4 separate regions of the Homo sapiens genome follow, and regions 1, 3 and 4 are each linked to region 2. The links come from fine-mapping of genetic effects on plasma protein levels. A gene starts in region 2. Each other region holds a variant in brackets. All regions are shown on one strand. Distances are between the middles of the regions.

Region 1 (5,193 bases), 66 kb before region 2:
GTAGCTCCATTGGTCAGTTTTGCAGTGTTCTAGGAGTCATTCCTGGGGATTCAGCCTAGAGCTTGATCACCCAACCCTTCCAAAGGTTTTGTAAGCAGCTAATTCCCTATATTAACTCCTTTTTGCATAAAACATTTAGTTGTTTGCAAACAACAACAGCAAAAACAATGCAAGCTGCTTCAACAATTCATCATGTTGCCAGGTGTGGTGGTGCACCCCTGTAGTCCCAGCTCCTTGGGAGGCAGAGGCAGGAGGATTGCTTGACCCCAGGAGTTCAAGGTCAGCCTGGCAACACAGCGAGACCCCCATCTCTTAAAAGAAAAAGCAGGAAACAATTGATCATGTCACATAAAAAAACAACCAGACTTGGTACTGCCAGGGTCCCTTGCCGCTTCTCAGGTCAGCCTTGATGCTGCCTTTCTCTTTGTGTGGACATAATCCTCAGTTCCAGCCATCTCGTCCAGACATGACAAACTGAGAAGTGTCTGTATTTTTGAGGCTATCTCTTTTTAAAACAGGTTTATTGAAATATAATTAATATACCGTATAATTTTAAAGTGTACAATTCAATGGTTTTTGGTATATTCGTAGACAGGTGCAACCATCACCACAGTCAGTTTTACAAATTTTCATCACTCAAGAAGAACCCCATATCATTTAGTTATCACCTCCCATCCTTGTCCACCACCCCAGACTCTGGAAACCACTAATCTTCTTTCTGTCTCTATAGAATTCCCTATCCTGAACTTCCATATGAATGAAATCGTAAGGTCTGTATGGGGAAAAGAAAGAGAGATCAGACTGTTACTGTGTCTATGTAGAAAAAGGAAGACATAAGAAACTCCATTTTGATCTGTACTAAGAAAAATTCTTCTGCTTTGAAATGCTATTAATCTGTAACCCTAGCCCCAACCCTGTGCTCACAGAAACATGCGCTGTATTGACTCAAGGTTAATGGATTTAGGGCTGTGCAGGATGTGCTTTGTTAACAATGTGTTTGAAGGCAGTATGCTTGGTAAAGGTCATCGCCATTCTCCAGTCTTGAGTACCCAGGGACACAATGCACTGTGGAAAGCCATGGGGACCTCTGCCCAAGAAAGCCTGGGTGTTGTCCAGGCTTCCCCACACTGAGACAGCCTGAGATGTGGCCTCGTTGGAAGGGAAAGACCTTACATTATAGTCCCCCAGCCGGACACCCATAAAAGGTCTGTGCTGAGGAGGATTACTGAAAGAGGAAGGCCTCTTTGCAGTTAAGAGGAAAGCATCTGTCTCATGATCCCCTGGGAATGGAATGTCTTGGTGTAAAACCTGATCGTACATTCTATTTACTGAGATAGGAGAAAACCGCCCTATGGCTGGAGGTGAGACATGCTGGTGGCAATACTGATCTTTACTGCACGGCAATACTGATCTTTACTGCACTGAGATGTTTATGTAAAGTTAAACATAAATCTAGCCTACGTGCACATTCAGGCATAGCACCTTTCCTTAAACTTATTTATGACACAGAGTCTTTTGTTCACATGTTTTCCTGTTGACCCTCTCTCCACCATTACCCTATAGTCCTGCCACATCCCCCTCACTGAGATAGTAGAGATAATGATCAATAAATACTGAGGGAATTCAGAAACCAGTGCCGGTGCAGGTCCTCACTTGCTGAGTGCCGGTCCCCTGGGCCCACTTTTCTTCCTCTATGCTTTACCTCTGTGTCTTATTTCTTTTCTCAGTCTCTCGTCTCCACCTTGCGAGAAATACCCACAGGTGTGGAGGGGCAGGCCCCCTTCAGTCTCTGGAGGCCTTTGTGGCTGGCTTCTTTCACTTAGCAGAATGTTTTCGTGGTTCGTCCGTGTTGTAGCAGGTATCACTACGTCCTTACTTTTTATGGCCAAGTGATATCCCATTGTGTGGATATACCATATTTTGTGTGCCCATTCATCCATTGATGAACCTCTGAGTTGTTTCCATGTTTTGGCTATTGTAAACAGTGCTACTATAAACTTTTGTGTACAAGTTTATTCGTGGACATATGTCTTCATTTCTCTTGGTATATACGTAAAGTCCCTGCATCCTATGGTAACTTTATGTTTAATCATTTGGGGAAACTTCCAGGTTGTTTTCCAAAGTGGCTGTATCATTTTACATTCCCACCAGAAATGTATGACGGTTCTAACCAACACTTGTTATCTGACTTTTGGGTTCCATCCATCTCAGTGGGTGTGAAGTGGTATCTCATTGTGGTTTTGATTTGCACCTGCATTTCTCTTTAAGATCAAGGAAATCTTTTCCAGAAGTTCACCAGCAGACTTTCTATCAAGTGCTGTTGAACAGAACTGCATCAAATACACCTTCCCAAACCAGTCACTGGCAAGGGAAATGAGATTACTGATGAAGACTCACCTCCTGGGTTGGAGCTGGCACTGTGGGAGCTTACCCTAACAACAGGTTCTGTTAGGAAGGAGGAAGGAGGCAGAGGATCAGCTAGCTGTGTGGCTGCTACACGTGGCTTCCACGGGCTCTCACAGCTTTCCTCCTCCTCAGGCCATTTGTTCTTAGGCTTCTCTTCCTCTGTCCACCCCTTAAATGTCAATGTTCCTGGTCTTCAATGTCCTCCATATACACTCTTTTGGATCATCTCATTTATTCTCATGGTTTCCATTTCTACTTGATGCCTTCTGAAATTGCTTCTTTTCTGAGCTTCGGATTTACTGATAATAATAAGGAATAGTATAACAATAATAATAGCACTACCTTTTTTTATTTGTTTGCTTTTATTTTTATTTTTATTTATTTATTTATTTATTTTGAGACGGAGTCTCACTCTGTCGCCCAGGCTGGAGTGCAGTGGTGCAATCTCAGCTCACTGCAAGCTCCACCTCCCGGGTTCACGCCATTCTCCTACCTCAGCCTCCCAAGTAGCTGGGACTACAGGCGACTGCCACCAGGCCGGCTAATTTTTTGCATTTTTAGTAGAGACGAGGTTTCACCATGTTAGCCAGGATGGTCTCGATCTCCTGACCTCGTGATCCGCCCACCTCGGCCTCCCAAAGTGCTGGGATTACAGGCATGAGCCACCGTGCCCGGCCTAGCACTACCATTTTTTTTTAATTTTTTTGAGATGGAGTCTTGCTTGTCGCCTAGGCTAGGT[G/A]CAGTGGCACGATCTTGGCTCACTGCAACCTTTGTCTCCCAGGTTCAAGCGATTCTTCTGCCTCAGCCTCCTAAGTAGCTGGGACTACAGGCACGCATCACCACGCCTGGCTAATTTTTGTATTTTTAGTAGAGATGGGGTTTCACCATCTTGGCCAGGCTGGTCTCAAACTCCTACCTCATGACCCACCTGCCTCGGCCTCCCAAAGTGCTGGGATTACAGGCGTGTGCCACCGTGCCCAGTCTAGCACTGCCATTTATTAGATACATATTACCTTCCAGGCTTTGTACCTTATCTTATTTAATTATGGGAAGTCTATAACCCTATCCTTTTTTTTGTTTTTTAAGACAGGGTCTCACTCTGTCACCCAGGCTGGAGCGCAGTGGCATGATCTCAGCTCATTGCAACCTCTGCCTCCCAGGCTCTAGCAATCCTCCCACCTCAGCCTCTATGAACCTATTCTTATCCCTGTCTTACACACAAATGAACAGGCTTTTTGCAAAAGGTAACGGAACTACTAAGTTGGTGGAGCTGGAAGATGGACCCGGTCTGTTTGACTCCACTGCCCTGCTCCACTGCCCGTTAGGCTTCTGTACCTGCTTCAAACACAGGGCAGCCCAAAAGAACTCATCACCTTCCCTGGAATGAGCCCTGTCCCCATGCTCCCTACAGCAATGAGGAAACTACCATGTATTAGTGTCCCACACTCCTGGTACCAATTTACTGTGTTAATCTATTCTCACACTGCTATAAAGAACTGCCCAAGACTGGGCAATTTCTAAATAAAAGAGGTTTCATTGACTCACAGTTCTACATTGCTGGGGAAGTTTCAGGAAACTTACAGTCATAGCGGAAGGGGAAGCAGGCACCTCTTCACAAGGTGGCAAGAGAGAGTGTGAGTGGAGGAAATGACGGACGCTTATGGAACCATCAGATCTCATGAGAACTCCCTAACTATCCGAAGAACAGCGTGGGGGAAACCACCCCATGATCCGATCCTCTCCCACCGGGTCTTTCCCTCAACACTTGGGGATTACAATTCAAGATGAGATTGGGGCGGGGACACAAAAGCCTAACCATGTCATACCATTTGCCCAATTTAGTCCAGAATCCCACGGGCTATCTCCCTCCTCCTTTGTCCCTGCACTACGTAATGCCAACGTTGCTTGCTAATTATTCCTTGAACCCAGCTCTTGTTCCTCATTCTCCACTGTCATTGTCTGAGTCCAGGTATGCTGTGACTGGTGTGCATGTACCTGGGATTTCTTAGCCTTAGGGGTGGCTGGCTGTGCAGAATCTTTGGATGGCTGGAGGCCCTGGGTTGGTTGTTTCTGTTTGCAAACAGCCCCCTCCTTTGTTAACCAGTGTGTCATATAACAGCAATCATTTTCTGTGGATGAATAATGAGGGAGATGGTAAGAAGCATGACCTGGAGTAGACTGCACCGCCATCCGCCTCTCCACTTTCCCTCTCTCACTGCATCCTTCCTTCTGACTGCGGCAGAGACAGGCCGAATCACTCCCCTGTGAGAAACCTCTGGATGGGGGGCCATCCCCTCACCACCCTGAGGACCAGGTCCACATTCCTTACTGTGGCTGACAAGGCCCTCCATAGCTTCCAGTGTCCCCTTCCCGCCTCCACTCCTGTGTTCGTGAGTAGAATTCGGTGCTCCAGAAACATCACGCCTTTCTGCAGCCCTCTCCTCTATTCCGTGCTGTTTCTCACCCCAGCTTCTTGGCTCACACGGTTTCACTTACCCAATACGCTAATAACATGGAGGTTAAGACCAGCGGTGGCATCAGGTAACCCGGTTCAAGTCGTTGCTCTCTGTCACTTGTTCATGGTGAAAGCACTCAATCTCTCTGAACCCCAATTTATACCTCAGCTTTAAAACAAGTACCTATCTCAGGGCTGTTGTGAAGATGAAATGAAGAAAATATGCAGACATAAGTGGTTGCTTTCTTTATCCATCTTGCTTAACTGCCCTAACCCCCAAGAAGTCTTCCCTAACCCTCCTTCTGAAGGACCCTGTGCAAAACTCTGCAGGC
Region 2 (5,193 bases):
TGGGAGTCCAGCCCCTGCTCCTCCTTCCCCAGAAACCACACAAGCCCCATTCTGGAGAGCCCCATGGCAAGATGAGCAAGTAACCGCCTGCGGCCACTGAGGGGCCGCCACCATCTGGGCCCCCTTGGCAGGGGCCTTGTGGAAGGGAAGCCTCTCAGGTGCCTTTCTTTGCTGGCGCCCTCTGAGCAGCGGGTCCTCCTGAGGCTCCCACCTCCTGGCCTGGGCCCGGCGGGAGGCAAGCTGGCCTCGTGGCCAGGGAGACTCGGGAGATCCTATCGGCCGGGCCTGGCAGGGCGAGGTCGGCTCCTTTCCTGGTGAATGGGGCTGTTGTGTGCTCCCTCCTGAGTCACAGCCCTCTTGTCTGGCAGGGTGGAAGGGAGAGGACTCACCGCGATGAGCTGGACGCAGTGGTCGGCGGAGGTGCCCCGGACGCAGAGGAGGGAGGGCTGGATGCCCGCTTCCCGGAAGGCCTCGCTCATGTTGCCGCACTTGTGCTGCTCTGGGTCCGAGGTGGCGCACCACCGCACCTCCATGCCACCGAGCACTGCGGGCAGGGGACCGTGAGGCCCGGCTCCCCCGCCCTGCCCAGCCCCGGCCCACCATGGAGGGTGGCTCCAGCAGTTCTGTGTGAGCCCATTCGCCTGGACAGCCAGTCCTCTAGGGCAGCCCTGCCCTCCCACAGGGAGGCACTAGGCGCAGAGACAGGGGAAGGGCTGGTATTCCTGTGCTCAGGGCCTCTCTGACCAGGAGCACGGCTGCTGGCAAATGGAATGGCTCAGAACCCGGCCCTTTATGGAGGAATGGGAGGGTCTACAGGTCGCTTCTCAGCTACCCCCACCTGGTGGGAGCACTGGCTAGGGAGTCTCGGCAGGCCCTGGAAGTGGAAGCTTCTTCCCCTCTCCAGGCCTCCCGAAGAGGGTGCTCGTGTAGGTTCCCTCACCCAGCAGTGTCCCTGGGCCTTCCTCATGAACTGGGACGGGAGAGTGAGGTGAGGGGGCTGTGGGTGGGCTGCCCTCCAGGAGCCCTGTCCCCTCGGGGAGTGTCTGCGATGATGCTGGCTGCAAAGCCACCCTCGGTGGGCACAGTGCCAGGCCCTGCCAAGGGAAGACGGCAGGCACAGAGGGGAGGCTGAGGACCCATCAGGGTAGGTTCAAGCCTCTCTGAGCCTGCTTCATCTTCTGAGAGAGCAGATAAAAACCCCACCTTCTGTGTTGAAAGTAAACCCCCTTGTAGAGAGCCTGAGACACCCACATCCTCAGTGGACTTCTGCTTATGCCTCAGGATCTGACCGGGTCAGAGTCCCCGAGAGCTCCCAGGCTAGGGGCCCAGAGGAAGGGGTGCTGGAGCCCCTTGGGGCCGATGACTTTCAGGCCTGAGCTCCTCTGCCATTCACCCTGCCCCAGCCAGCACTGCCAGAGGCCTGTGCAGGAGGGAGGGAAACGCATGACTCCGCCCGAAACCAGGTCACCCTCCCGTGGCAGCCCCACCAGCCCAAGGGCCGAGACTGAAGCTTCCGCCACAGCCCTCCCCTCCCCACTCCTGGCGGAGGCCTGGGAAGTCGAACTGCCCTCCCCTCCGCAGCGCTCCAAGCCCCCCACCACCCAGGCGGGAAACTGCAAAGTTCAGACGGGGCGGGGGTGGCGGTGGCTTCATCGTTTGCATTGATGAGTGCGTCGCCTGCGGCCACAGCGGTGCCACGAACTCCATCCCCTCGGCGGTCGCCGCCCGCGATCCCCGCGAGCCGCTCCCCGAGGTCCCGCCTCCCGTCCCACCATCCCGGGCCCTGACTCCCCGGGGCGCCGACGCGAGGGGACCCGGCCTCCGTCTCCACCTCCATCCCTGCATGTGCCAGAAACCCCCGGGCGGACTCCCGCGCCTGCCGGTCAGTCCCTCTGAATCTTCTCCCGCGGGGGCTCGGGAGAAAGAGCTGCTCCGAGCCCCCAAAGTCTTCCTGAGTTCCTGCGCCCGTCGGGAGGGGCCGCCCTCCGGGAGCTCCTCTCCACACCCCGAGGCCTCCCCACCACGCCTCAGCCCGCGCTTCTCCTTGGAGCGTCGGAAGCCTCGGGTGTTCGAGGCCGCCTCCTCCAAGAAGCCTTCCAGACTTCCCCGTCTGCGCTTCAGTGCTAGTTCCCTCCGCCGTCCTCACTCGACCCCGAGCCCCTGCCTCCCCCGTCTCACTGCCCCGGAGCCGCAGGCTCAGGCACATTTCCAGCCCCGGGACCTGCTCAGCCGGGCCGCGGCGCCCCGGGACCCCCGCCCGCCTTTGGCTCTCACAGCGGGGCCTCACCGGTGCGCAGAGCCAGGAGCAGCCACAGAGCCCCGCTCGGACCCCGCATGGCGCCGTCGGGGCTGGCTGGGGCCGGGCTGGGGCTGGGTCCGGGTCCGAGGAGGTCCGCAGCAGCCGGGCTTCCTCCCTGCTCCCCCTCGCGCTGGCCCGAGCTCCTTAAGTGCGGCCGCGAGTTCCCGGGCGGAATCCACGCCCCTGGGGCGCAGGTCACCTCCCGCCGACCCCGGACCCCGCCCCTGGGCGGCCCCGGCGCGCCCCCTGCTGGAGGCCTCCCGCTCGGGCCCGGGCGCCGCTGCTCGGGGCTCTCGCCTCAGCCTCCTACCCCGCGTTCCAGGGTATCCTCCCCTCCTCGCGCCCTAGAAAGACTCCAGATACCGTGTCTAACTGGAGAGAGAAAAGCTCAGACGTGGAAGGAAGGAGAGGTCAGAATCCCAGAGTCGGGGCTGGAGGGCAGCTGGAGGATGATCTCATTCACGCAGCAGCTCCCTCCCAGCACAGCTGCACAGAGGATCTGGGATACGGGGGAGCCCAGGCCGAGCGCCCTGGCGAGGGGGGAGCCGGGCAGGGGCATCTCGGCCACAGCTGCACAGAGGATCTGGGATACGGGGGAGCCCAGGCCGAGCGCCCTGGCGAGGGGGGAGCCGGGCAGGGGCATCTCGGCCACAGCTGCACAGAGGATCTGGGATACGGGGGAGCCCAGGCCGAGCGCCCTGGCGAGGGGGGAGCCGGGCAGGGGCATCTCGGCCACAGCTGCACAGAGGATCTGGGATACGGGGGAGCCCAGGCCGAGCGCCCTGGCGAGGGGGGAGCCGGGCAGGGGCATCTCGGCCTAGCCGACTGCCTCTCCTCGGGCCTAGAGACGGGAGGTGACTTGCCCGAGTCAGGCATCCAGTCAGTGGCAGAGCCAGCTGATTGGAAGGTGAGAAGAGGACCAGAGAGGAATTGGAGGAAGCGGAAAAGGAGAAACAGGCGGAGAAGGGGAGGAAGAGAGTGAAGAAGGTGAGGGAGGAAAGGGTGGGTTGACCGTATTTCTAGGACAGTGGTTCTCAGTGTGGTCCCTAGGCCAGCAACGTGAGCATCACCCTGGAACTTGCTGGAAATGCAAGTGCTCAGGCCCCACCTCCGACCCACTGGATCGACAGCTCTGGGGGCGGGGCCCACAATCTGTTTTTATTTCGGGGCACAGCAAATGTTGAGAACCACTGTCGCAGGCGGGCAAAAGCGGCACTCCCCATGTGGTTGGGGATGCGGGGAATGAACTGAAGACATTGTTAGTCACCTGCCTCCATTTAGGCCTCACCTTTATGTCATCAGCCCCTCTGAGACTCAGAAATGATGTCTCTCTCTGACATGGGTAAGTACAACAGTGAGAGAGAAGACATCCCTCTGAGTTTGTCTGTCCTTGAGCTTGCTCTGCGCCCTGGGGAAGGAAGGCCTCCCTCCTATGGGGCCATGAAGCTACTGCTTATCACACACTGGATCAGGGGAAGGAACATGGGCTGGGCTTCAGGAGACTCGAGCTCTACTTTTTAAAAACCAGCGACTTACAGACCCTGGGCGAGTTCGTCGCCCTCTCTGGGCTTGTTCCCCACATGTAAAAGGTAGGTCATGATGGCCGTGACGTGCCATACTTTCCGTCTCCTGTCTGCTCTGGAGGACTTGTGCTGTGGAAGCTGTTTCTCCATCCCCCCAGATGGATCCCTTCTTCCTAGTTTGCACAAAGGTGCCGAATGGACTAGCAGGCAGCCTTGCTAGAGGGGCTGATGGCTTGTCCTAAGAAGATGGAATAAATAGAAGAGTCCTTAACAAGCCTCGTTCTCCTGACCACGAGGATAGAAAGGCTCAGTTGGCACACTCCAGGAGCCACCAGATGACTGGCAGGATCTGTTTGATGACTAAGTCCTTCCTTTGGCAAAACTCCACGTGACGCTGATAGGGAGTGAGAACAACCATAACCTAAGAGGTTTGCTGGGCTCTTTCACAATGAAGTTCTTCCCTTATCTCTTGGGTGTCATTCAGCTGTGACTCATCAGTGAACTTGCTGCCTCTGGGTTCTCAGGGATTCTACATCGGGCCCGTTGGCCCAGGGTTGGCATGAACGCGCATCACCTTTGTGGAATGGGGAAGTCTGCCTCAGCTTGAGCCAGGATTCTGCCATTTCTGGGGTCCGGACATACTTGGGTGTGCCAGAGAAATGGGTGGGATGTAATGAGAGAGTAATAAGCCAGTAGTTTAACCCACAAACAGCCTTCTGGAGGAGCAGAAGCTGAGGTTAGTTTGGTCCCCATTCTAGACTCATATTGAGATTAGAGGGAGAGCATACAGACTAAAGGAACTGGTTTCACTGACACTTCGATCAGATTCTGGGGCCTAAGCAGCTCTGCCTGAGTCTCCCTGACCCTACCCCATAATATGAAATAAAAAGAGCTCTTCTCCACTCTTGCCAAAGACACAGCTCTGGCTCTCCAAGGATTCAGAGTGCCCAGAAGCATTGAGCTTGCTTGTCAGGGAATCGAGGAACAGTACATCCCATGGAGGGAATACACTACAGGCAGCCTCAGAAAGTGGGGGCCTTTGACAGGAGACTGAGAAGGTCCATCAGCAGGTAGTGGCTAATGAGCCAGCAAAGGGTGAAATCCTTTACCCAAAACGAAGTAAAATATTGTACTTAGGAAAAAATATTTTTCAACAAATCATAATTTCTGTCTGTCTATTTCTATGGCCCGCAATGTCTTTAAGAACAAGCCAAATAGTTTTTATTCTGGGGAACCCTTGGAAGGCTGGTGTGCCCTGAGAAAGTTTGGGTGTGAGCACCTGCAGTAGTGTGATGTCAGAGGATGTTACGCTCTTGCTGACTGGTTGGGGTGTCAGCACCTGCAGTCGTGTGATGTCAGAAGATTTTACAC
Region 3 (5,193 bases), 14 kb before region 2:
TTTATGAAAAGACCTCGAAAGCATAGGCAACAAAAGCAATAATAAGCAAAGGGAATTGTATCAAACAAACAAGTTTCTGCACAGCAGAGAAAACAACGAACAGAGTGAAATGAAGACAGCCTATGGAATGAGAGAAAATATTTGCAAACTACTCATCCAACAGGGGATTAATATCCAGAATACACATGCAACGGAAACATCTCAACAGCAGAAAACCATCCAACTTAAAAACGGGCAAATGATCAGAACAGACGTTTCTCAAAAGAAGACATACAAAATGCCAGCAGCCATCACTGATCATCAGGGAAATGCAAATCAAAGCCACAGTGAGGTATCAGCTCACCCCAGTTAGGGTGGCTGTTATCAAAAAGATAAAAAATAACAAATGCTAGTGAGGATGCAGAATAAAGGAAACTCTTACACACCGTTGCTGGGGATGTAAACCCGGACAGCCGCTATGGAAAACAGTACGGAAGTCCCTCCACAAACTACAAATCGAACTATTGAATACCATATGGTCCAGTAATCCCACCACTGGGAATCTGTCCAAAGGAAAGGCAATCAGCCTGTGGAAGGGATGCCCGCACCCCATGTTTATCGCAGCACTGGCCACAATAGCCAGGATGTGGAATCAACCCAGGTGTCCAACAACAGAGGATGGATAGAGAAAATGTCATTGGCATGCACCGTGGAATACTATTTAGCCATAAAAAAGAATGAAATCCTGTCACTGGCAGCAACACGGACGGAACTGGGGGACACCGTGTTATGTGAAATAAGCCAGGCACAGCAAGTTAAACACCATATGTTCCACTCATATGTGGAAGCTAAAAAAAGTTGATCTCACAGAAGTAAAAAGTAGAACAGAGGATGCTGCAGACTGGGAAGGGTAGGGGAAGGGAGGAATAGGGAGAGTTTTTTTTTTTTTTTTTTTTTTTGAGACAGTCTCTCTCTTGTCGCCCAGGCTGGAGTGCAATGGTGTGATCTCGGCTCCCTGCAACCTCCACCTCCCGGGTCCAAGCGATTCTCCTGCCTCAGCCTCCCAAGTAGTTGGGATTACAACTGTGTGCCACCATGCTCGGCTAATTTTTTTGTACTTTTAGTAGAAACAGAGTTTCACCATGTTGGCCAGGCTGGTCTTGAACTCCTAACCTCAAGTGATCCACCCACCTTGGCCTCCCAAAGTGCTGGGATTATAGGTGTGAGCCAATGCACCCAGCCAGGAGAGATAGGAGGAATAAGCTCCAGTGTTCTATAGACTGTAGGATGACTAGAGTTAACAATAATACATAGTTTCAAACAGGTAGGACGATATTGCATGTTCTCCACACGGAGAAATGAGCAATGTTTGAGATGATGGTATGTTAATTATTATCCTGCTCTGATCACCATGTATTCTATGTATCAAAACATCAGTATGTATCTCATGAATATGCACAATTATTATTTGTCTATTTAGAAAAATCAGGAAAAAAGAAAAAAAAAGTCGAACAATGATCCACGCCCACTCTCTATTGCACAAGGGAAGGCTGAGATTCAGAAAGGGGAAGGGGCTTGCCCCAGGCTACAGGGCGTCAGTGCCCAGCTGGGCCAGCGCTTCTTCTGCTCCTGGCACCCCCACTTAGTGAGGAGCTCCCAGGCTCTCCAGGGGACTCACCCCTATCTGCCTGTCCCCTGGGGTGGGTGCTGGCCCCTGCGGTCGCTCCTCCCCGCCTGTCTCTGTCCCCTGGGGTGGGTGCTGGCCCCTGCGGTCGCTCCTCCCCACCCGTCTCTGTGGGCTTGTTGCAGTAGACACTCTCCTCTTCCCCAGGCAGCAGGGGGTGTGGGTAGTAAGAACTGCCCAGGCACTGCCACCACCCGCCCACCTGGCCCACGCTGCACCTGCGTGACTCCCACCTGGATCCGCTCCATGCAGTGTTGGGGGGACTTGGCTGACACGCACTGGATCTCTGGCTTGAGCCGCTGCCGGCGGAAGGCCACGGCCATGTCTCCACACTTCTGGATCTCGGGAGTGGAGAGCACACACCAGCGCAGGTAGGGGGGCAGCCCTGGGGTGGGGCAAGCAAGCGGTCACTGCCAGGCCAGTACTGCCATGGAAGAGCATGGAGTCGGACCCAAGGGAAATTCTGGGCCTTTCTCCTGTCAGGTGTGTGGCTGGGATAAGTTATTTAACCATCGGATCCCACTTCCTCACACAGAAAAGGGGCAACTGTGAGGCCTGAGGAAGACCATGGCTGGCGTGCATGTAACTCAGTGTGTGGTACCCACTTCCCTGGCTGGAGGTGGAAGATACATGGGGCCAGGGGGCTAAAGGCAAGAAGCTCACTTGTAGACTACTGCAATAGTCCAGGCGAAAGATGGCACCTGCGCCAGGGCTGTAGCCATGGGGTAGAGGCGGGGAGTAGGAGCGAGAGGCTGTAGAAGAGCTGACAGGATGCCATGGCCGTGGATGGGGGGGCGAGGAGACCCTTCCCAAGACAGATTCTGATGGTCTGCATCCTCCCCCGCTGCGGCCAGGTGGGGCTTCCGAGGTACAACAGGCCATACAGTGGAAGAGATGCCTCCTCCCCAAAGCCCCAGGGGCAGAGGAATGGAAATGACAGGTTCCCGCAGAGGCCTCCCTGGTGAGCGTCTTCCCCCGGCCACTTTCCCAGAGAGCCTCGCCATGCCCGAGGTTGAGCTGGGCTGGAGCTGGCAGCAGTGGGGACAGGTGGACTTACGGTTGGGGTCACAGAGCAGACCCTTCATGGCGTGCAGGTACTCATGGCCCA[G/GC]CCACGCCTCATAGGTCTGTGTGGCGATGGGCACAAGCTCCGAGGTAGAGTCTTTGAAGAGTAGATCCTTCTGGCCATAGGCCTCAGAGCTGAACATCTGGAAGCTGCTGCCCTCGTGGCTGAACAGACGCTGTGTGTCAAGGGGTGTGGTACAGGGTGGTGAGGGTGCTGACAGGCCATATCCTTCCCTCCCACTTTGGCCCCTACCTCCTTCTTCCCCGACCTCAGACCAGGCACCCACCCTGAGGGCCAGGTGAGGCCTCCCTCTTCTGCGGCGCCTCCCCTGATCTGCGGCCTCCTTCCCCTGGGCCCTGTCAGTTCTGGGTCTACTCTGAGTTCATTTGGCCTCCTCACACTCAGCTGTTTGGACACATGGCTGTGGCCAGGCATGGGACGGTCCTGAGGACACGCCGTGGGGCTGGTGGTAGCAGCCTGGATAGGGCAAAACTAACTGAGCCTGGGGCACCAGCAGTCAGAAGTCTATTGCTGTCACAAGCGGCGGTTTTAGCCAAACCTTATTCGCCACATGTAATTAATGGTGTGCTTTGAAAGGCGCTGGTTTTGTTACTTGGTTTATTTGCTCATATGTTTTGGTTTTAGCTCTCAGAGACACAAGTCTCAGGAGCTTCTTCTGAGGGTGCCTGAATCCCTGGGTCCCCCTCCTCTGGGCCCCCCTCTCCTGGCCAGCCCTCCTTCTGGCCAGCCAGCATAGTCGGTTCCTCACTCTGACCTGGCCCGATGCTGGGGTCCGTCCCAAGGACAGTCTCTGGGTCCTGCCCCTCCTGGTCCCACCCTGCTGAGCGACCACAAGGCCCGGCACCATCTAGGAAGCTGTGCAGGTGGTTGGGGGACCCTGAGCCCACCTGGCCTTCGTTGAGCAGCCGGAAGATGAGGCCCCCATCTGTGTCGGCCCGGACCACCACGGCGTGAGCAGGCACCCGGGCCAGATGGCACTGCCTCCACTCGGTGACATCGGCCCGGCTACCATCCCGGCACAGCAGCTCGAAGTCCTGTGACAGCAGGGCCTGGCCCCAGGAGGGAAGCGTCTTCCCTGGGAAGCAGGAAGCCTGGGCTGAGCCAGCTCCGAAAGGGGTTGGGGCGGGTGGCGGGGAAGGCCCAGGAGAGGGAATCTGAGGGGTGGCTGGGTGTCATGGACATGAGAACCCAGCATTCAGAAGGTGGCAGAGCTTGGTGGCCGCACCCAACTCCAGGTACCTACACAGACTCTATCTCGTTACTCTCATTTTCTAGCTCTCACCAATTTCTATTGCTAAAGTGAATTGGAGGTATCTGACAGTAATACAATACTTATAAATAACTATTCAAGATAAAAAAAGTAAGAAAATAAGAAAGGCTGGCCGGGCGTGGTGGCTCACGCCTGTAATCCCAGCACTTTGGGAGGCCGAGGTGGGCGGATCACGAGGTCAGGAGATCAAGACCATCCTGGCTAACACGGTGAAACCCCATCTCTACTAAAAATACAAAAAATTAGCTGGGCGTGGTGGCGGGCGCCTGTAATCCCAGCTACTGGGGAGGCTGAGGCAGGAGAATGGTGTGAACCTGGGAGGCGGAGCTTGCAGTGAGCCGAGATCACGCCACTGCACTCCAGCCTGGGCGACAGAGCGAAACTCTGTCTCAAAAAAAAAGAAAGGCTTTGGGTGAGACAGATGAATGTACCAAGAGTCTAGGATGAGCTTGCGGCTGCCATGAGGCACTGCGTTTGGCTCTGAGCAGGGGGCAGGGGGCAGGGCTCCCGGAGCAGGGGCCACGGTGGAAACAAACCCCGAAGGAATCTACCCACCCCAGGACTAGAGAGGACGGGGGATCTCCCATAACTCCAACTATTCATATTGCGATGGATTTCTTTCAAGTCCTTTTTTCTATTTTATTTCCTGTCTTTTGACCTCACCCCCCCTTTTTCTTTTTGAGACGGAGTCTGGCCCTTTCGCCCAGGCTGGAGTGCAGTGGCACGATCTCGGCTCACTGCAACCTCCACCTTCCGGGTTCACGCCATTCTCCTGCCTCAGCCTCCCGAGTAGCTGGGACCACAGGTGCCCGCCACCACGCCCGGCTAATTTTTTGTATTTTTTTTTATTAGAGATGGGGTTTTACTGTGTTAGCCAGGATGGTCTTGATCTCCTGACCTCGTGATCCACCCACCTCGGCCTCCCAAAGTGCTGGGATTACAGGCGTGAGCCTCCACACCTGGCCTTTTTTCTCTTTTTGAGATGGAGTCTTACTCTGTCGCTCAGGCTGGAGTGCAGTGGCATGATCTTGGCTCACTGCAACCTCCGCCTCCCAGGTTCAAGTTATTCTTCTGCCTCAGCCTCCCGAGTAGCTCAGATTACAGGTGTGCACCAAGATGCCTGGCTAATTTTTGTATTTTTCCTAGAGATGGGGTTTCACCATGTTGGCCAGGCCG
Region 4 (5,168 bases), 97 kb before region 2:
TTGGAAGACCGGTTCGTTTGTATACCTCATGCATGTTTGGGGTTTTATAAACAAATTCAAGTTCCCATTAAGGGCCATGATGGGTCTAGCTGCACTCCAGCAGGTTGCACTTTGGGAGGAATTGAGGCCTTTTCATCAGTTGCTGCTTTTCACAGTATTGGGTCAGGAGGGAGAGGAGATCCCAAGCCATGCACTAGCTTGGTCAGTCACCTATAATTTGGGTAAATGCTTAAAACAGTGTATTTTTACAGTAGTTTAAACAGACATGAAAATGCTGCCTTAGATCGGGGTCCCAAACCCCTGGGCCACGGACAGATACTGTCCACATTAGGTTCTCTTAGGAGTGTGAACCCTGTTGTGAACTGCAGATGCGAGGGATCTAGGTTGCTCACCCCTTATGAGAATCTAACTAATGCCTGATAATTCATCCTGAAACCAACCCCCTCTCCCCCAAGTCTGTGGAAAAATTGCCTTACACGTAACCAGTCCCTGGTGCCAAAAAGGTTGGGGTCTTCTGCCTTAGACACTATTAGGTCTGCATTTAGTAAAACAGAATGGGCTGGTCCACAACTCCAAGTGCCACTGAAGTGTTTCTGGGACCTTTTTTTTTGCAGTACTGCAAGTGCCTCGCCTTAGAGCAGCCTTTCCAGTTTTCACAAGAAGACATGCCCCGAGTGCGGAAGAGGATTTACAAGGAGCTATGTGAGTGCCGGCTCATGGACTGAAACTCAGCAGGGACTCTGGGAAGTCTGACCAAGTTGGAGCAGATGGTTTGTTACTTGAATCTCCAAACACTTAGTTGAATTTTTACAGATATTTCAGATCAGTGGTGTTGGGCCACTATTGTTACCTCAAATTTATTTTTTGCCCTTATTCATTTCTCCAGCTACCATGTACTATTGTTTAATGTTCAGTTTGGTTTCATTTTTAATTTTATGGTTCTGTGCGTCCCCCATATTTAATATTTATTATTCAAACGCATGCATATAGACAGAGCATGCAGTGAAGAGTATTAAAAAAAAAAGCTTAGTAGATTTGGTGCAGCTTTTGAAACTTAGTTAGACGTGAACTGAATACAGGTTTCAAATTTACTCCCAGAACCTAAAAATGCAAGATGTTTTTGATACAACATAACTCTGAGAATAGTAAGTGTTCCCTGGGGCATTAAGGGTAGCTGGGGGTGGTTTTGACAAATCCAGTCCTGTTTTACTTTACCAGCGGCAACTTTCACCAACTTCCCTCTCCAAGTGAGTCTTAGAGAGTGCAGTCCATTCCTTTTGAAGGGTGAGATGGAAGTGGTCGTAAACTGACTGGTGTCTTCTGTTTCTGGAGGCACACTTGTAAGCACAGTGGCTGCTTTGGGAGGAGTAAGGTGTGAGAAAAAGCAACCTTGGAGGCCAGTAACAATGACAGATTTCAATCGTGGTTTTAGGAATTATAATACGTGGCATACATCTCATAAAGGCTTTTGCTGGGATATTGAATTCCCTGAATTTTTCTGTTTTCGACCTGTTAAAAAAATCTTAACATCCATCAAACTAGTGGTCAAACAAATGAGAATGCAGCTGTTCTCAGAGTAATTTTTAAGTTGTCATTTCCCTGTGTTGCCTCCCAATTGGAAGAAGTTAAGGTTTACCAAATGCATTTCTATTTCAAGGGTATCTGAAACGTAAACATTCAAAACTGAAGGCTGACTGACTTGAGATGTTTTGCAGGTGGCTGGAGAGAAGAGGGAAGGTAATAGAGACAACTTAGTCCCATGGGAGCGCAGCAACCGTGTCAGGTTCTTTCTCCTGTCCCATTAGTGACCTCAGTAACATGCAGGGTACGTCTGGCTTCTGCATGGCCAGTGCTGACACTAGCACAGCTGTTCTTCTCCTTCTGTTGAACCTCATCTTCTGAAGAAAGGCCAAGTGGCCCTTGTCCATACACTTAGCTGCATTAGGATGAATATCACGCGTCTCACATCTTTAATCCAGCCTTTCGTGACATGTTGGAAAGATACATGTGAAACCTACCCAGTTACCCTTTCTGAATTGGGAGGAAAACCAACCAATGTATGTATGAGAAACTCAGAAGTCTGAATAGAAAAACAAAGTAAATGGCAGAAGATTCTCGAGTTTATGCCCGCGTAGGTTTGGAGTGTTGAAAAAGCTAAAATGTTTAGTTTCACTTGGCCCTGAGGTATGGTTGAGAAGGCTGACTGCCAGCAGTTGAGGATTGAGTCCGACCATGTTTACATGCAGGGTTCCCAACACCAGTGGTGACACTGGGAAGCAGCCCCAGCACTTTCCTCTCCTGAGTCCTCCAGACCCAAAATCCTTAATGTCAAACCAGGTCAGTGTTTCTTACTGTGTTTCAAGTCGTTAAAAAGACTGAGAGTAGAGGCACTTTATGCTGCTATAGGTGGGGTTCTGTCAGCGTTAGGAAAAAATGACAGTTTAGGGTAAGGAAGATCTCATAATGAGTTTTTCAAACATAATTATGCAAACATGAGATTTTTCAAAACATGCCAGAAATTTGCCTCTG[ATTTTTTTTTTTTT/A]TTTTTTTTTTTTTTTGTGGGGGTGTGGTATACCAAAGTAGCCAGTCACTGGGCTGTCAGTTCAAAATGTCTTGTACTTCAGAGTGAGGAAGTGTTTCAGTTCCTCAGTGACAGAACCTGGCATGCAGAAGAGACAGAATTGTTCCTGTAAGAAAATCAACGCCGAGAGAGAGCTGCCCAAATCCAGTGACTCTTCCACTTCCAGTCTCATGCTTCATAGGGCACCTTGAGGTGTGCTGCCCAGTGTGGCTTAGACTAAATGTTGAGTTTGGGTTTTTTGTTTTTTTTTTTTTTTGAGTCAGAGTCTCACTGTCCCTCAGGCTGGAGTGCAATGGCGCAATCTTGCCTCACTGCAACCTCCACCTCCCAGGTTCAAGCGATTCTCCTGCCTCAGCCTCCCAAGTAGCTGGGATTACAGGTGTGTGCCACCACGCCCCACCGATTTTTGTACTTTTAGTAGAGACAGGATTTCACCATGTTGGCCAGGCTGGTCTTGAACTCCTGACCTCAAGTGATCTGCCCGCCTGGGCCTCCCAAAGTGCTGGGATTACAGGCGGGAGCCACCGTGCCTGGCCAATGTTAAGTATTTTAAAAGTCATTTTAAAATATTTGTCATTGATGAAACTTGGTTTCAGCACACGTAATTGCTTTCCCTCTCTTCTTGTGATTAGGTGTAAACCTCTATTTAACTCAAGTCCTAGATTAGAATGTCCTTTGTCCTGATGTTTGCAGTAATTGCTTCCTTGGTTAATAAAGATATTTTTGAAATATACTCTGGACTGTTGGTGAAAGAGGCAGGCATGGCTTTACTGGTACTAGTTTGGCACTGAACTGTTTGGGTGCCCATGAGGTAGGCAGACCTTATGCTTTTTTTTTTTGAGACGGAGTCTTGCTCTGTTGCCCAGGCTGGAGTGCAGTGATGTGATCTCGGCTCACTGCAACCCCTGCCTCCCAGGTTCAAGTGATTCTCCTGCCTCAGCTTCCCCAATAGCTGGGACTACAGGTGTGCGCCACCACTCCCAGCTAATTTTTGTATTTTTAGTAGAGACAGGGTTTTGCCATGTTGGTCAGGCTGGTCTCGGAACTCCTGACCTCAGGTGATCCACCCGCCTCTGCCTCACAAAGTGCTGGGATTACAGGCATGAGCTACCGTGCCTGGCCTAAACCTTACGCTTTTGAGGTTGAGTGCAGGCCTTGTGATAACTAAGCGCTACTTTTGACGAGCCTTCAACAAGCTGCCCAGTCCTCTCCTCAGCAGACGCATCAGGTTGTAGTTGCATCTTTACAGTGGTCTTTCCTTTTATTAAATCTATAGCAGTGAATATAGATTTGATTCAACTTTTAGTTACGTTCTCTCAAGAATCCTAATCAACTTTCAGTTAGCCTCTTAAGAAAGGGAAAAAAAGGTGCTGCCAGTCATCCCCAAATTATGTTTTTGGCTGTGCATTCTATTTTCTACATAGCACTGAATCTGAGTAACAGTCATCCTGGATTTATAGTTGGAACAGAACAGTAACAGACCTAACTGGGACTCAGCCAGCACTAGCCTCATCTTAGCTGCCCCTTTTCTCTGCTTTGCAGTTTACTGCTTCCCTGGGCTAGCCATAACGGGGTTCTGGGCAGGTCAGACTCTTCAGCAAGACAGTGTATTAATAGTGTGAATTAGATACACTGATGACCTGCTCTGCCTAGTTAAGAAACTGAATTAATCAGCAGTTACAAAGCACATACTTTGTTACGTGCTAGGCTTTGCCTCCTGGCCTCTAGATAATTAAGACGGCCCAGGGAATACCAGCAGAGAAGTGCTAATTGTATTTGGGTGTTACAAAAGCAGACCTAGACGAGCTGTTCACTTAACTGGTACCTGTTGGTCAGAAAAAGAATTTATTTAGAGATTATGATCATGTAAAATTACAGTACTCAACCCTTCTAGCAAAGTATTTTTTTGAAAAATAAACTAAATGCCTTTATAAACTTGTGTTCTCTCGTCTTGAGTAACATGTACTGTTTGGCGAGGAGTAATTTTTTTCTTGTGACATTCCAGTCACGACAGAGGTCATTTCAGAACAGTGAGCAGTGCAGGCCCTAACCAGCTCACCCTCAGAGCAGCAGCACCATCACTCGAATTTTCTACAACGGAAATGTTCTATATCTTCATCTTAGCTTGACTGAGAAACTGAATGTTTAATTCTCACACTTCACTAACATGTATTAATAGTGATGCCTTCATCTGTACGTTTGAATTTTCACTTTTCTCCGATTAAAGTGAGAAACAGGTCAGATGCTATCCATGAGAAATAGGAAAGAATGGTGCAGTAAAGAGACTCACATTTAGTGTTCTCTAGCCCAGGAAACATAAGATGTTCTTAATCCACCCACAATTTCCCTTCCCTTGCAATCATCCAGAGCATGTTTTTTGGAAAACTAACCTATTCTTCCATCAGTAGAGGTTGCTTGGTGCCTATTTGATCACTTTCACAAGAAAATCTGTGCGCTCTCTTCACACGCAGCAATAGTTATTTCCAACTGTCAGTCAATCAAAATGGACACGCGAATTGTCCACACTATTCATAGAATCCCCCTGGAACTCATTCATGTGTATCCAGAGTACAGGAATTCCAGAACA

What was found. PIP is the chance, under the fine-mapping model, that this variant and not a neighbour inherited with it causes the effect. The UK Biobank Pharma Proteomics Project read protein levels with antibody pairs (Olink). The fine-mapping took linkage between variants from a reference panel, not from the people measured, so its PIPs are less certain.
Region 1: its variant is fine-mapped to the plasma level of the MELTF protein (UK Biobank, PIP above 0.99).
Region 3: its variant is fine-mapped to the plasma level of the MELTF protein (UK Biobank, PIP 0.98). The variant lies in the coding sequence of MELTF. If it changes the protein, the assay may bind it differently, which can mimic a change of level.
Region 4: its variant is fine-mapped to the plasma level of the MELTF protein (UK Biobank, PIP above 0.99).

What each region holds. Positions count from the first base shown.
Region 1 is chr3:196,961,266-196,966,458 of GRCh38, forward strand. The region is part of intron 1 of PIGZ (phosphatidylinositol glycan anchor biosynthesis class Z (Gwada blood group)); the gene reads right to left. Among named protein-coding and RNA genes, the nearest start is that of PIGZ, 5.0 kb to the right of the region's middle. The variant G/A (reference allele first, on the strand shown) is at 3,146.
Region 2 is chr3:197,027,367-197,032,559 of GRCh38, forward strand. It overlaps MELTF (melanotransferrin), which reads right to left and starts at 2,451. Exons shown (of 16, transcript NM_005929.6): 1 at 2,288-2,451; 2 at 390-544. The coding sequence starts at 2,336. RefSeq lists silencers at 1,714-1,893, 2,084-2,133, 2,184-2,673 and enhancers at 2,207-2,843, 2,844-3,480, 3,868-5,067, 4,172-4,466.
Region 3 is chr3:197,013,469-197,018,661 of GRCh38, forward strand. MELTF (melanotransferrin) reads right to left here. Exons shown (of 16, transcript NM_005929.6): 7 at 3,635-3,822; 8 at 2,721-2,901; 9 at 1,897-2,048. Among named protein-coding and RNA genes, the nearest start is that of MELTF-AS1, 13 kb to the left of the region's middle. The variant G/GC (reference allele first, on the strand shown) is at 2,772.
Region 4 is chr3:196,930,199-196,935,366 of GRCh38, forward strand. SENP5 (SUMO specific peptidase 5) reads left to right here. Exons shown (of 10, transcript NM_152699.5): 10 at 615-4,516. The coding sequence ends at 725. Among named protein-coding and RNA genes, the nearest start is that of NCBP2-AS1, 7.1 kb to the right of the region's middle. The variant ATTTTTTTTTTTTT/A (reference allele first, on the strand shown) is at 2,530.